Linked DNA regions of Homo sapiens: region 2 is linked to region 1. Evidence: fine-mapped expression QTL. Tissue or cell type: anterior cingulate cortex. Region 1 holds a variant in brackets; the other region holds the start of a gene. All regions are shown on one strand. Distances are between the middles of the regions.

Region 1 (8,103 bases):
TCCCCCTGAGAAAACTCCTCTGGCCTCCTGGCGGGGGGTGAAGGCCAGGCTGCCAGGGCCAGGCTGCCAGCTTCTGGGAGCTGCAGGGGCAGAGGCAGGGAGCTGTCAGGCATTCAGCCAGCAAGACGCACTCAGTACCCACTTGGGGTTCAGAATCCCCCTCCCTCATCTTCAGATGGGCCAGATGTCCCCAAAGCCAGCGGCCCCTTTCTGTTTCACCCTGTCTACAGAATAAACCCCCAGTCACTGGGGGTGGGGGAAGAGTAAGGGGAGAGGGGAAACGAGATTTGGAGGTCTAGCTGCTGCTGAAACAGCCCTCAGTTCGTCTTTATTTTGCCTTCTGCAAAACTGGCCTGGTGTTGCCAGCTCCTTTTGAGGACTTTGCTACCGGTTCTCAGCATCCCTCAATTGCTGGCTTAGGATTCATGGGTTTTTAGGGGTGGGGTGGGATTAGCATGTCCAGCTGCTTTCCAGTTTCCAAAGTTCTGTCCCTATCATATTGCCTCTGATTTAAAAAAAAAAAAAAGCCATTTTAAAAAAAAGATGTAATTGAGGTTCAAGAGAGAGTGAAACTAGAGAGGTGTTCAATCCATCACTTTTACACAGAAATTTCACCTTTTTTTCACTTATAAAATCTAATGAAAGAGTTCTATATTATTATGTTAATAATACAGTAGTAATATAACAGTATAATGTAATAATTAATATATTATATTAATTATATATTATAATTATATATTATATTATATTATATATATTATATATTATATATTAATTATATATATTATATATATTATATATTATATTATAATATATTATATTATATTATATATATTATATATTATATTATTATTATATTATATTATATATATTATATATAATATTATATATATTATATATTATATAATATAATATTATATATTATATTAATATTATAATATGTAACGCATAACATGTAATATTGATAATATAATAGGTGCGATGGCTCACACCTGTAATCTCAGCACTTTGGGAGGCCGAAGCGAGAGGATCACTTGAGCCCAGGAGTTCAAGACCAGCCTGGCCAACATAACGAGCACCTGTCTCTACAAAAAATTAAAAAAAAAAAAATTAGGCATGGTGGCATGCATCTGTAGTCCCAGCTACTCAAGAGGCTGAGGCACGAGGGTTGCTTGAGCCCAGGAGCTTCAGGCTGCAGTAAGCTATGATCACACCACTGTACTCCAGCCTTGACAACAGAGTGAGACCCTTTAAATAGATAGATAGATAGATAGATAGATAGATAGATAGATAGATAGATAGACAGACAGACAGCAAGCTTTAAATTTTCATCCCAAGCCTAGGTCAAGCAACAATCAGTCTTTCCACTTCCCAGCAGTCTTCCAAAGGAAGGATTATTTGTAAAAAGTGCCTGCACTTCCTGAGTTGGGTTGCTCTCTTGATCTTTGGAGGGGATCAGACAAGAAGGATGCGCCCAAAGCCACAAGGCATGATTTAAGGGCAAGACTGGGGGGCGACTTCACCCAGGGAGGTGTTAATACCTTTTTTTTTTTTTGAGATGGAGTCTCGCTCTGTCTCCCAGGCTGGAGTGCAGTGGCGCAATCTTGGCTCAGCACGACCTCCATCTCCCAGGTTCAGGTGATTCTTGTGCCTCAGCCTCTTGAGTAGCTGGGACTACAGGCGTGCGCCACCAGGCCTGGCTAATTTTGTGTGTGTGTGTTTTAGTAGAGATGGGGTTTCATCATGTTGGCCAGAATGGTCTCGATCTCCTGGCCTGGTGATCTGCCTGCCTCGGCCTCCCAAAGTGCTGGGATTACAGGCGTGAGCCACCGCACCCAACCTTTAACACCTTTTATCACCTGCCCTGCCTGATGATGATGGGCTTTGGGGTCCAGTCACATCTCCATTCCCTCACTTGTGGCAGGCACCAGGGTAACCAGCAAGCAAGCCCTGAAAAGAGAGACCTTGCCCGGAAACGTTGCAGCGTTCTCTTACGTGTATGCTTTGCCTTCTGAGAATGGCGAGCATTGATGCAAGTGTATCCCTTTTAAGAATACTCAATGGGGCCAGGCGTGATGGCTCACACCTGTAAGCCCAGCACTTTGGGAGGCTGAGGCGGGTGGATCACGAGGTCAGGAGATCGAGACCAGCCTGGCTAACATGGTGAAACCCCGTCTCTACTAAAAATACAAAAAATTAGCCAGGTGTGGTGGCAGGCGCCTGTAGTCCCAGCTACTTGGGAGGCTGAGGCAGGAGAATGGCGTGAACCCGGAAGGCGGAGCTTGCAGTGAGCTGAGCTCACACCACTGTACTCCAGCCTGGGTGACAGAGCGAGACTCCATCTCAAAAAAAAAGAATACTCCATGGGAAGCTGGTATGATCTCAGTGGAGGGCAATTTAGCAATATCTATCAAAATGACAAGAACACTCACCCTTAGGCTCACAATCCCACTACTGGTGATTTATCCTGCAGATGTAGTTGCACAGCTGTGGAAGGACTTACTTACAAGGTTAATCATTGTTGTTTGTGAAAGCAGCAGATTAGAAACAACCCAGACTCCACCAACGGGTAATGGTTACATAACTTGTGGTATATCCATCCATGGATTACTACACAGCACTAAAAAAGAATGAGAACTTTGGGAAGCCGAGGCGGGCAGATCACAAGGTCAGGAGATCAAGACCATCCTGGCTCACATGGTGAAACCCTGTCACTACTAAAAATACAAAAAATTAGCCAGGCATGGTGGCAGGCACCTGTAGTCCCAGCTACTCGGGAGGCTGAGGCAGGAGAATGGTGTGAACTCAGGAGGCGTAGCTTGCAGCGAGCCAAGATCGTGCTACTGCACTCCAGCCTGGGCGACAGAGTGAGACTCCATCCTAAACAAACAAAAAAAAAAGAATAAGAACAAGTCTAGGAACTATTTTGAAAGATCTCTCAAACACATTTTTAAGTTAAAAAAGCAAAATGCAAAACTGTACATAATATGCTGTATTATCTATAAAATAGAGCAAATAAGAATTATAGGTATGCTTACTTGTACTCATATAAAGAAACTCTAGAAGAATACCAAGAACTGTGGATGAGGGTAGAATAGTGAATGGAAACTGACTGATTAGACTAAAGAGGTGGGAGTAAGACCTTTTATGTATCGCTTTACATTATTTGACTTTAGGACCATGTGGATGTTTGCATATTCAAATAATTAATTCTTAAAAAGAAGATGAAAATAGAAGGTGGGCGCAGTGGCTCACACCTGTAATCCCAGCACTTCGAGAGGCTGAGGTGGGTGGATCACTTGAGGTCAAGAGTTTGAGACCAGCTTGGCCAACATGGTGAAACCCCGTCTCTACTAAAAATACATAAATTAGCCAGGCATGCTCGTGGGTGCCTGTAGTCCCAGCTACTCGGGAGACTGAGGCAGAAGAATCACTTAAACCTGGGGTGGCGGAGGTCGCAGTGAGCCGAGATCATGCCACTGTACTCCAGCCTGGGTGACAGATTGAGACTCCATCTCAAAAAAAAAAAAAAGAAAGAAAATTAAGCAATAGTCCCAACATACTAAACGCATTTGTTTCTCTCCTCAAAGGAAAAATTAGAGGGCGAGTTATAGAGGGTCTTGAGGTTGTGTGAGTCAGGATGGCCTAGGTTTTGCTGTAATAATGAACAGCCCTCAAATCTCAGTGGCTGAACTCATTGAATTTTATTTCTTGCTCACTTACACAGCCACCACGGGATGTTGGGGGAGTACTGTTTATCTGAGTCATTCTGGGACCCAGGAGGATGGGCATTCAGCCCAACGTAATTACCATATCTGGCAGCGGTGGCTGCGAAGGCTTCTCCTTGGATGCGATGCCGCAGCTCCCTCCCACTCACACTTGATTGGCCAAAGCAAGTCACATGACACTGCTTACCTGCAAGGGGGCAGGGAGGTGCAACGCTACTAAGTGCCCGGGAGAGGGAGAACTGCAATTTCTTGGCAAG[C/G]GGCAAAAGATAACCACAGGGTACTGTTTCATCAAGGGCCGCCCAAAGCCCTGTCTGAATATGGGGCTCGTGTTTCCCCTGCTATGTAGTTACACAGGCCTCCTGCAGCTTAGTTTCAGCTTTTCTAGTTTTTCATGGCTCCCAGAGGGAATATTTTCTATGCCGTATAGCCTGTTTTCACATGAAGCCATTTTGGGGTGTTATAGTAACAGCTGGTGACTTGATTTTATTTATGTTGCTATGTGCTGAAAGCTTTATGAATGTTCTGGCTGTGCCAGTTACTAGCTGTGGGACATGGAACAAGTTATGAACAACCTATTTACCTTCTCCAACCCTTAGTTCATTTATCTGTAAAATGGGGATAATACTATCTTATAGGGCTGTTGGGGTTGTTGTGTGAGAAAGTGCAGTGTGTATGTGTATGTGTGTGTGTGTGTGTGTGTGTGTGTGTGTGTGCAGAATGGGTAGAACCGTGCCCAGAAGTAGGAAGCCCTGCATATGTTCAATATTTAGCTATTATTTTGTTGTTGTTGTTTGTTTGTTTGTTTTTTTGAGATGGAGTCTCTCTCTGTCGCCCAGGCTGGAGTACAGTGGCACAATCTCGGCTCACTGCAGCCTCCGCCTCCCGGGTTCAAGCAATTCTCCTGTCTCAGCCTCCCAAGTAGCTGAGATTACAGGCGCGCACCACCACGCCCAGCTAATTTTTGTATTTTTAATAGAGGTGGGGTTTCACCATGTTGGTCAGGCTGGTCTTGAACTCCTGACCTCAGGTGATCCACCTGCCTCGGCTTCCCAAAGTGCTGGGATTACAGGCGTAAGCCACTGTGCCCAGCCTTAGCTATTATTTTTATTCCTTCAATTTTTTCTTTGGGGCAGTCTGGAGAACAGTTTCATGTGAACATTCTGATCACATGGAAAAGGGAAGGTTTACTCACGTGTCGGAAGAGGTGTGAATGGAAAGTAGTAAAGGCATGGTTTCTGATGTTCATGTTTGTGGAATCTGTCGTCTATGGCAGATGCTTCCCCGTGCTACCAATTTGTGTGTCTGAAAGGACACCCGTACATTCATCTGCATCCTCAAAATCTGTTCCTCCGTGGGTTTCTCCATCTCTGCAAAATGCACTGCTGTCCACTGTGTGCCTAAGCCAGCCCTGTTTGGTCAATTTTTTGAAGGCTGTAGGGTAGAGTGGTCAGGAACAAGAAGCCCTGGACCCAAGCTGTCAGGGTTCAAATCCCAGCTCACCTGGTATTGCAAATCGCATGGGTGACTCCAGGCAAGCAACTGAAGCCGTGTGTGCCTCGGTGTCCTCATCTGAAAAAGGGGAATGAGAATCATAGTATCTATCTTACAGGGATATTGTAAGGATGAAAGATTAGCTGTTGGAACTGTGCCTGGTGCAGAGAAACTACTTCATGTGTGCTTTGCACACCCGAAACCTTCTTTTTTATATTTATTTATCCTTGGCCTGGGGGCTGTCTCCTCTCACTCAGTGGTGTGTCTCATTTGTTCTCCTCTGTGCCTGAGCCAGCACATGGCACATCATATTTTCTCAGTAAATATCTGGCAGAAAAATGTATTCATCAGCCTGGCCAACATGGTGAAACCCCATCTCTACTAATAATACAAAAATTAGCCAGGCGTGGTGGCGGGCACCTGTAATCCCAACTACTTGGGAGGCTGAGGAGGAAGAATCGCTTGAACCCGGGAGGCAGAGGTTGCAGTGAGCCAAGATCACGCCACTGCACTCCAGCCAGGGCGACAGAGTGAGACTCTGTCTCAAAAAAAAAAAAAAAAAAAAAAAAAAAAAAAATATATATATATATATATACACACACACACACACACACATTTACATAGCCCCGCCTTCATCAAATGTCACCCTGCCCCTTAAAATGCCGCCCATGCATGTTCTCCCACCTACTGCTTTTGTTTCCAATCATTCCTAATGGCCCGGATCTATTGGATCCCAGCATCACTGCTTGTTAGCGCAGTGGCCTTGGGCAAGTCACTCCTCTGGTGCAGATGGGGGTCCCTAAGACCACCCTCAGTTTCCATGATTCACTAGAAGGAATCACAGAACTGAGAAAAATTGTTATAGTCAAGGCTACAGTTTATTACAGCAAAAGGATACAGAGTAAAATCAGCAAAGGCAAGAGCCACACAAGGCGACCCCATCAGTCTCTCTGATTCCTTAATTATCTAACAGCAGCACATAGGGCAGAGGCCAAGAGAGACCAGCATGAGCTGCCAGATGTCGTCTCTCAGTGAAGTCCCATGGACAGTGCTCAGTTCTCCCAGCAATGACATGTGACAACAATGATGTATTGCTAGCCAGGGACACTTACTTGGGCCTTGGTGTCCAGGGTTGTTATTGGGGTCAGCCATGTAGACTTGTGCTGAATACTGCTGAGAGATCGAGACAGACGGTAAGAACGGCTGAGAGCTGATGCACGCCAGGTGTCCTTCCATGCGTTGGCCAGGAGTGATCTCATTTTAGCCCATCCATGACCCTGTTAAATAGACATCTCCATTTTTCCAGACAAGGAACCAAGGCTCATTGAGGAGAGGTCACTTGCCTGAAGTCCCACGGCTAATAGGCAAATCCAGGAGTCTGATCCTTAAACCTCCACCCTTACAGATGTGGCCTTGGACATGGCTGCACACCCTCGCGTGAGTTCACTCACTCAGGATGTATTGAGCCATTGTTCCAGGGCAGGTAGCATTCAAAGCATCAGGGGTGCTGTTATAGCCAAGGCTACAGTTTATTACAGCAGAAGGACACGGAATAAAATCAGCAAAGGGAAGAGCCACATAGGGCAGAGGCCAGGAGAGACCATCCCGAAGGGGAACATCCCTGTGCTTGTGGGGCTTCCATCTTAAGGAGGGCAAGCAGGCAATGGGCAGATCAGGAAACGAAGATATGACTTGCCAAAGGGTGGTAAGTGCCATGGCCAAAAGGAGGCAGAGAGAGATGGGGTGTCTGCTTAGTTGGGAAGTCACAGAAGAGCGGGACGTGATGTTTGAACAGAGACGATAATTATAATGGCCACTTTCAGAACACTTACTATTTGTTGGATAAGTAATAACAGTAATATATGTACCAGGCAATGTTCTAAATGCTTGAATGCATCTCATCTTTCCAATCACAGAGATGCTCTTATTATCATCACTTTACAAATGAAAGGGAGGTTAGGGAAGTTGGCAGAAGGCACACAGCCAGGAAGCAGGGGCTCCAGGATCTCAGCCCAGGGATCTTGGCCTCAGAGGCTATGCTTTTCACCACTGTCCTGCCTCTCAGTGCATGGAGAAATGAATGTTCAGTGCCTAGAAGGGATAATCAGGGAATATGGAGGTTAAGGAGGCAACTGAGGCACAGAGAGGTTAAATCGCAGGGTTCAGAAGTGTTGGGGGTGGGACTCAAAGCTAAATGATCTGCCTCCACAATCTAAGCTCATTACCACCAGACCAGTCATCCTTAAGCATGCATAGGAGTCCCCTGGAGGGCTTGTCAAACTAGATTGCTGGGGCCCGCCCCCAGAGTTTCAGACTCAGTGGGTCTGAGGTGGCCCCGAGAAGGTGCATTTCTGTCCAGGTCCCAAGAACCGATGGTGATGCTGCTGGTCCAGGGCCCACATTTTGAGACCCACTGCCCTAGACTGCCTCTCAGCACACGGAGGAATGAATAGCCAGCTTCCGGCGGAGGAAACTGAGGCTCAGAGAAGCTAAAAGTGTCATGTGGAAAAAATCACATAGCCGTTAGACTGTGGTACCTGGATCTCAAACCCAGGCAATCCGGCTCCAGAGTGTTTTTAACCATTTCCCTGCACTGCCTCCTGCCGGTCAAAAGAATAAATGCATATGCAGGCAAGAATGAATGGGTGGTCCCATTTCCGTAGAAGGGGAAACCGAGGTCGGGGAGCTGGGCGGGGAGACCCCAGCATCCTCTGACCTCTTTCCTTGCCTCCCTGCCCCCGCCCGCAGGTGAAGCTGGTGTTCGTGGAGGACCAGGCTGTGGTGGAGACGGTGTTCTTCCTGACGTCGCGCACCAGGGCGCTGCTGCGGCGCTTCCCTCGCATGCTGCTGGTGGACCGGCTGCCGGGGCTGCAGGGCGCGCTGG
Region 2 (8,091 bases), 460 kb after region 1:
AGGATTTTGAGCAGGAGTGATATGATCTTATTTGTGTTTTAAACATCTCTCTAGCTGTGGGGTGAATAGATTGCAGGAAGTTGAGAGGCAGGCCAGTGAGGAGGGTACGCCACCAGTCCAGGTGGGAGATGATGGTGCCTACATGAGACTGGGGGCAGTAGAGGGCGTGATAGGTGAAAGGATTTGAATAATATTTAGCAGCAAGGCTAGAAAGAACATGGATTGGAAATGGACATGAGGGAGAGAGGATAGGATGGGGAATGGCTTTGAGGCTTTTGGCTGGGGCAGCTAAATGAAAGGCAGTGCCGGCTCTTATAAGAAATGGTATTGGCCAGGCGCGGTGGATCACAGCTGTAATTCCAGTACCTTGGGAAGCCAAGGCAAGGAGGATCACTTGAACCCAGGAGTTCGACATCAGCCTGGACAACATAGTGAGACCCCACCTCTACAAAAAACTTAAAAAGTTAGCCAAGCATACTGGCATGTGCCTGCAGTCCTGGCTTCTTCCTTCCTTTCCTTCCTTCCCTTCCTTCCTTCCTTCTCTCTTTCTCTCTTTCTTTCTCGCTCTCTCTCTTTCTTTTCTCTCCCTCTCTCTCTGTATTTATTTCTTTCTGAGATGGAGTCTTGTTCTGTCACCCAGGCTGGAGTCCAGTGGCGTGATGTCAGCTCACTGCAACCTCCGCCTCCCGGGTTCAAGCAATTCTCCTGCCTCAGCCTCTCAAGTAGCTGGGATTACAGGCACATGCCACCACACCCGGCTAATTTTTGTATTTTTAGTAGAGATGGGGTTTCACCATGTTGGCCAGGCTGATCTCGAACTCCTAACCTCGTGATCCACCCACCTCGGCCTCCCGAAGTGCTGGGGTTACAGGCATGAACCACCACACCCAGGCATGTCCTAGCTATTTTTGAGGCTGAGGTAGGAAGATCACTTGGGCCCAGGAATTTGAGGTTACAGTGAGCTATGACTGGGCCACTGCACTCCAGCCTGGGTCACAGAGTGAGATCCCAATTCCAAAAAAAAAAAAAAAAAGTATGGTTCCCAGCATGGTACTATAAAGCAGGTCCCAGCATTCATGCTACGCTGCTTGGTTTGAATGCCAGTGCTGGCTCTCTGTGTGATCCTAGGCAAGTAACTTAACCTCTGTGTGTCAGTTTCTGCATGTATATAATAAGGTTAATAATTGTACCCATTTTGGCTGGACGCAGTGGCTCATGCCTGTAATCCTAGCACTTTGGGAGGCCGAGGCAGGTGGATCACCTGAGGTCAGGAGTTCAAGACCAGCCTGACCAAAATGGAGAAAACCCATCTCTGCTAAAAATACAAAAAATTAGCTGGGCGTGATGGTGCGCATGCCTGTAATCCCAACTACTCGGGAGGCTGGGGCAGGAGAATCGCTTGAACCTGGGAGGTGGAGGTTGCAGTGAGCTGAGATCACATCATTGCACTCCAGCCTGGGCAACAAGAGCAAAACTCCATCTCAAAATAATAATAATAATAATAACAATAATAATAATTGTACCCATTTTGTGGGGTGGTTATGAGATGAGAGGCTTATCAAGGTTTTAAATCTGCCTGGCACAGGAAATGTTCTGCTTTTCATTGCTTCTGCAGAGATGGGGAGACTAGGGGACCATGCTTGGGATGGGAAGAATGGGTGATCCATTTTACAGTGTAAGCAGCCTCCTCTCCACCCACTGGGTGTCCCCTCCTCCCCCAAGGCTGCTCTCCTACCTCAGCACCCCATTCCCCAGCCTCTATTCATGCCCATCCCCAGTGGGTTCAATAGCTCCTCCCTCCAAGCCCCTTACCTTCTCTCCTCCAGTGCTGAGCCTTAATGGGGGCAGAAAGGGGTCATAAAGAACCCTCTTCAGCTCCACATCCACGGGGCTCTGCCGCTTCCCCACAGCACACAGACTCCACGCTGCATTCACCAGGCCCCAGAAAGGAGGCCCTGGGGGTGGGGTCGGAGTAGGAGGACAAGGAGTCAGAAATAGAGACTGGATCCCAGGGCTGGTATCTGCTGAGTGGGCTGTGGTCTGGACTCCCAGATCCCAGGGGAGGAGGGGCTAGGGACCTAGACTCCTGGGTCTGAGGGAGGACTGGGCTCAGATCCAGAATTCTGGGTCCTAGAAGAATCTTGGAATAGTTTCCAAGTTTAGCAGAGACGGGTTTCACCAAGTTGGCCAGGCTGGTCTTGAACTCCTGACCACAGGTAATCCACCCACCTCGGCCTCCTAAAGTGCTGGGATTTCAAGCGTGAGCCACCGCGCCCAGCCGATCAAACCCATCTTAAGCCACTGTAGATGGAACTACAACTCCCAGCAGGCCCCAGTGCTACCAGCCTACCCCTCTGCTGCCTACCTGCCCCAGAGCCCCGTGGGAGTTGTAGTTCTTTTTTTTAATCGCTCTTATCCCACAGCTGGATTATTATTAATGTGTTGGGGAGAGGAGCTGCAAGAGAAGGCTGGACAAGGTGGGGGACGGGGCCACCCAGCCTCTGGTTCCTAGCAGGAGCCAGGACCTTCCTCTCCCGGCAAACACACACATAATCTCCACCCCCACACTTTCCTTCCACTCACTCCCACTCACTACTTGAAATGCGCATGTATAATGTCCCATGGTGAGCCCCTGGGGTTCAGAAGCTGGCCCGACTCCTGAGGGACAGAGGAGGGGGCTGGGACTCCTGGTCCTGGGGGGGAGGAGGGAGCTGGGAACCCAGGTTCCTGAGTCTGAAGAAGGAGGCGCCGGGAGGGCCGGACTCCTGGGTCCCCGCCTTGGCGGCACCTGGCACGAAGTTTCCCTGGAGATTATCCTTGTAGCTCCACCAGTCCTCGGGGTCAGGTGCTGGTCCGATGTGAGCTGGGAAGAGAGCAGCCTGAATCCCTCTCCTTGGCATCCCCACCTCCACCCTCCCTCGGGGGCTCCTCCCGGGAACCCCAGGTCTTACCTGCTGCCCCCAGTGCAGCCCAGAGTACCAGCGCTCGAGGGGCGCTCAGACGAGCTGCAGCCCCCATCCCCAGGAGGCCTCCGAGGGACCCCTGCCCAACGCCCTGCCCCCCTCTCTCAGCTCCTCTGTCCCCTCCTTCTGGGACCCTGTCCCTCCAGGACTTCCAGCTTTCCTCTCCTCCCCACAGGGAGTCCCAGTTCCCCAAATGCCAAAGCAGCCAGGGACTGAGATCCGCCCTTCAAACCCACTCTTCTTCTCTCTCCCGTCTCTCTGTGTCTTTCCTCTTTCCTCTGCTCTTTTCCCGGAACCCTCCAGTCTCCCTCTAGCTCCTGATCTTCCTACTCCTCTCAGCCTTCTGCTGCCCCCAGGGCTACCTCTTGGTTCCTAACCCACACCTCCTCTCCGTTCTCTTTTCATTAAGCTCTCCCAAGCCACCTAACTCCAGGTCTCCATCCCGCATCTCCTCCTCCTCCTCCCTCTCTCCTTTCCAGCTCCTGCCTCTTCTCCCCTCTCTCCTTCTTCACCTCCTCCCGCCCTCCCTCAGTGTCGGCCTCCAGCTTCGTGCTCTCCCCACCTCCTCCTCTCCTGCCTCTTCTCCCTGTTTCAGTCTCTCTTCTCTCTTGTCCCTTCCTCCCTCCTCCCCCTCCCTCTCTCCTCTCCCGTGGTGTTATTTAATTTTGTTGTTGGGCTGGGGGAGCAGGTGATCTCATAGCGGCAAACACTCCTCGGGTTGGCTTGGGGTGGGATGTGCGAAAGGGCAGGATTCGGAAGGAGGTAGGGGGCTGGTCCTCGGCTCCCAGCCGCGCTGGGGCCACGCGGGCGGGGGTGGCCGGGACACCTGGGGCCGGGAGCAGGCTGTTTCCATCCTCCGCAGCAAGGGGAAGGGGGGGCGCTTAAGGTGGAGCTGGGAGTGGCTTCGGAAGTCTCCATGCTGGGGGCCGCCGGCCTTGGCGGATGCAGGGTCCCCCTGCTCGCTGGGACCCAGGTTGGAGCCGCCCCAGCGCCCGCAGCCCCCCTTCCCCGCCCCAGGGCTCCACTGGGTCTCTGCCTGGGGCTGCCTTAACGGGGCCGGGGGATCCCCTAGGAGCCTGAAGTGCAGTGAGGGCTGCTCGCCTGGAGGGGGAGGCAGAGACCTGGCGAGGGAGAGAGGGGCGGGGAGGAGGAGCCGGGAGGGCAGAGGCGGAGAGCGGGAGGTGAGGACCCACATCTGCGTAGGCTGGGGAGGGGAAGGGAGCCTGAGATGGATACGGAGAGGAAGGGCGGAGGGACAGAAGGTTAGAGAGGCAAGAACAAACCGCCAGGCAGGAGTGAGGAGGAGGGGGAGGAGGTGAAGGAGGAGGGGGAGGAGGGAGAGGAGGGGGAGGGAGAGGAGGGGGAGGAGGGAGAGGAGGAGGGGGAGGGAGAGAGGAAGGAATGAATGAGAGAGATACAGATAGAGGCAGAAAAGGAGATACAGAGACGCAGCGAGACAGACATGGAGACATAGAGACACACACTTAGAGATAGACAGAAACTCAGAGACCAAGCAGCAGATGGGGTGGGGAGAGACAAAAAGAGAGAAAGAGCGATCCAAAGACAGAGAGAGACACCACATTTTTGTATTTGGGGAGAAGAGATGGGGTCATGCTATGTTGCTCAGGCTAGTCTCAAACTCCTGTCCTCAAGGGATCCTCCCACCTTGGCCTCCCAAAGCATTGAGATTACAGGCATGAACAACCATACCCAGCCTCAGAGAGACCACATATTACTGTTGTTGTTGTTATTTATTATTTTTCACCCCGTCTAATGGTAGTGAAACTGCTCATTGTCTTCTTTTATTTTCTTTTTTGAGACAAGCCTTGCAATGTCACCCAGGCTGGAGAGCAGTGGTGCGATCATGGCTTGATCCAGCCTCGACCTCCTGGGCTTAAACACTCCTTCCACCTCAGCCTCCCAAATAGTTGGGACTACAGGCACATGCCACCATGCCAGGCTAATTTTTAAAAATTATTTTTTGTAGAGATGTAGTCTTGCTATGATGCCCAGGCTGGTCCGGAACCCCTGGGCTCAAGGGATCCTCCTGCCTTGGCCTCCCAAAGTGCTGGGATTACAGGTGTGAGCCACCTTGTCCAGCCTGACACCAAACATTAACGAGACAGAGAGACATAGAAAGAGACACACATACATCAGTACAGGTGGAGAGAGACACAGAGAGGGAGAGACATAGAAACACACACACAGACTGAGCATGGTGGCTCACACCTGTAATCCCAGAACTCTGGGAGGTCAAGGTGGATGGATCACTTGAGGCCAGGAGACTGAGACCAGCCCGGCCAACATGGCCAAATGCCATCTCTACTAAATACATAAAAACTTAGCCAGGCATGGTGGCTCACGCCTGTAATCCCAGCACTTAGGGTGGTCGAGGTGGGTGGATCACCTGAGGTCAGGAGTTCAAGACCAGCCTGACCAAAATGGTGCAACCCCGTTTCTACTAAAAAATACAAAAACTAGCTGAGCGTGGTGGCACACACCTATAATCCCGGCTACTCAGGAGGCTGAGACAGGAGAATCGCTTGAACCGGGTAGGTGGAGGCTACAGTGAGCCGAGATCCCAACAGTGCACTCCAGCCTGGGCAACAGAGTGAGACTCCATCTCAAAAAAAAAAAAAAAAAGAAAGAAAGAAAGAAACACACACACAGAGCTAGAGACAGAGACCTGGGAACAGGCACACACACATCTATAAATAGAGACACTCGTGCAGAGAAAGAGACATCAACAGAGAGGAACAGATGGACAGAGATAGAGAGACCCAGATAGAGGGAGAGAGGACCAGAAGCAGACCAACTGACATGATGGGAGAGACTACAAAGGAATCAGAAAGACAGAGGTATTCAGAGATAGCAAATTGGGATGGACATTCAAAGACCTAGAGATGGAGAGAGACACCCAGAAAGAAACCCAGAGAGTCAGGGGTGGAGAGAGACACGAAGAAAAAACACAAGAAGGAAAGGTACATACTAATAATTTATTGCTGGCGGGGCTTGGTGGTTCATGCCTGTAATCCCAGCACTTTGGGAGGCTGAGGAGGGAGGATCACTTGAGATCAAGAGTTTGAGACCAGCCTGGGCAACATAGTAAGACCTCGTCTCTATTTTTTATGAAAAAGAAAAAAACAGGCCGGGCACAGTGGCTCACACCTGTAATCCTAGCACTTTGGGAAGCTGAAGCGGGCGGATCACGAGGTCAGGAGATTGAGACCACGGTGAAACCCCATCTCTACTAAAAATACAAAAAATTAGCCGGGCGCGGTGGCGGGCGCCTGTAGTCCCAGCTCCTCGGGAGGCTGAGGCAGGAGAATGGCGTGAACCCGGGAGGTGGAGCTTGCAGTGAGCTGAGATCACGCCACTGCACTCCAGCCTGGGCGACAGAGCGAGACTCCGTCTCAAAAAAAAAAAAAAAAAAGAAAAAAGAAAAAGAAAAAAATAGTTGGGGAACGGCAGCTCACGCCTGTAATTCCAGCACTTTGGGAGGCCGAGGAAGGCAGATCACTTGAGGTCAGGAGTTTGAGACCAGCCTGACCAACGTGGTGAAACCCCGTCTTTACCAAAAATACAAAAATTAGGCTGGGCGCAGTGGCTCACGCCTGTAATCCCAGCACTTTGGGAGGCCAAGGCGGGCGGATCACAAGGTCAGGATTTCGAGACTGGCCTCACCAGCATGGTGAAACCGTGTCTCTGCTAAAAATACAAAAATTAGCTGGGCATGGTGGCACACGCCGAGATTGCGCCACTGCACTCCAGCCTGGGCGACAGAGTGAGACTCTGTCTCAAAAAAAAAAAAAAAACAAAAACAAAAATTAGCCGGGTGTGGTGACGCATGCCTCTAGTCCCAGCTGCTCGGGAGGATGAGGCATGAGAATCACTTGAACTCAGGAAGTGGAGGTTGCAGTGAGCCGAGATCACACCAGTGCCCTCCAGCCTGGGCAAAGAGTGAGACTGTCTCAAAAACAACGACAAAACAAAACAAAACAACGACAAAAAAATCTGTTGTTGTGTGACAAATTACCCTAAAACTCAGTGGCTTAAAACAACAAACATTTATTGTGTTCACAGTTCCTGAGGGCCAGGAATGTGGGAATGGCTTCATTGGGTGGTTCTGGATCCTTCTTGAGGGTGCAGTGAAACTGTTGGACAGGGCTGCAGTCATCTCAAGTCTTTTATGACCTAGTCTCCCAAAGTCACACACCTTTTATTCCACGCATCAGAAATGAGTCACTAGATCTAGCCTACACTCAAAAGGAAAGACGTTAGGATCCTCTGCTCTTGGGCCGGGAGCGGTGGCTCACGCCTGTAATCCCAGCACTTTGGGAGGCCGAGGAAGGCAGATCACTTGAGATCAGGAGTTCAAGAGCAGCCTGGCCAACATGGTGAAACCTCGTCTCTATTAAAAATACAAAAATTGGCCGGGCGTGTTGGCTCACGCTTGTAATCCCAGCACTTTGGGAGGCTGAGGCGGGCGGATCATGAGGTCAGCAGATCGAGACCACGGTGAAACCCCGTCTCTACTAAAAATACAAAAAATTAGCCGGGCGTGGTGGTGGGCGCCTGTAGTCCTAGCTACTCTGGAGGCTGAGGCAAGAGAATGGCGTGAACCCAGGAGGCGGAGCTTGCAGTGAGCTGAGATCGCGCCACTGCACTCCAGCCTGGGTGACAGAGCAAGACTGTCTCAAAAAAAAAAAAAATACAAAAATTAGCCGAGCATGGTGGCGTGTGCCTGTAATCCCAGCTACTCAGGAGGTTGAGGCAGGAGAATCGCTTGAAGCTGGGAGGCAGAGGTTGCAGTGAGCCAATATCGAGCCATTGCATTCCAGCCTGGGCGACAGAATGAGACCCTGTCTAAAAAAAAAAAAAAAAATCCTTTGCTCTTGAAAGGAAACGTATCACAGAATTTGGGGATTAATTTTCAAACCACCACAGGTGGGGAGAGGAAGAGAGACACAGAGTTGTGGAGAGATGGACCCTTAAAGACTTGGGAGGGGCCGGGTGCAGTGGCTTATATCTGTAATTCCAGTGCTTTGGGAAGCTGAGGCAGGAGGATCACTTGAGCCCAGGAGTTTGAGACCAGCCTGGACAACACAATGAGAACCCATCTCAGCAA

What was found. PIP is the estimated chance that this variant, and not a neighbour inherited with it, causes the effect.
Region 2: CA11 starts here. The variant in region 1 is fine-mapped to the expression of CA11 in anterior cingulate cortex (GTEx, PIP 0.96).

The regions. Positions count from the first base shown.
Region 1 is chr19:48,186,686-48,194,788 of GRCh38, forward strand. It overlaps ZSWIM9 (zinc finger SWIM-type containing 9), which reads left to right. Exons shown (of 4, transcript NM_199341.4): 4 at 7,968-8,103. Among named protein-coding and RNA genes, the nearest start is that of ZSWIM9, 20 kb to the left of the region's middle. RefSeq lists an enhancer at 58-117 and a silencer at 1,711-1,943. The variant C/G (reference allele first, on the strand shown) is at 3,986.
Region 2 is chr19:48,642,615-48,650,705 of GRCh38, forward strand. CA11 (carbonic anhydrase 11) reads right to left here and starts at 3,573. Exons shown (of 9, transcript NM_001217.5): 1 at 2,952-3,573; 2 at 2,789-2,863; 3 at 1,813-1,955. The coding sequence starts at 3,018. It also overlaps the pseudogene SEC1P. RefSeq lists enhancers at 1,501-2,202, 2,203-2,903, 2,904-3,604 and silencers at 3,562-3,751, 3,782-4,191.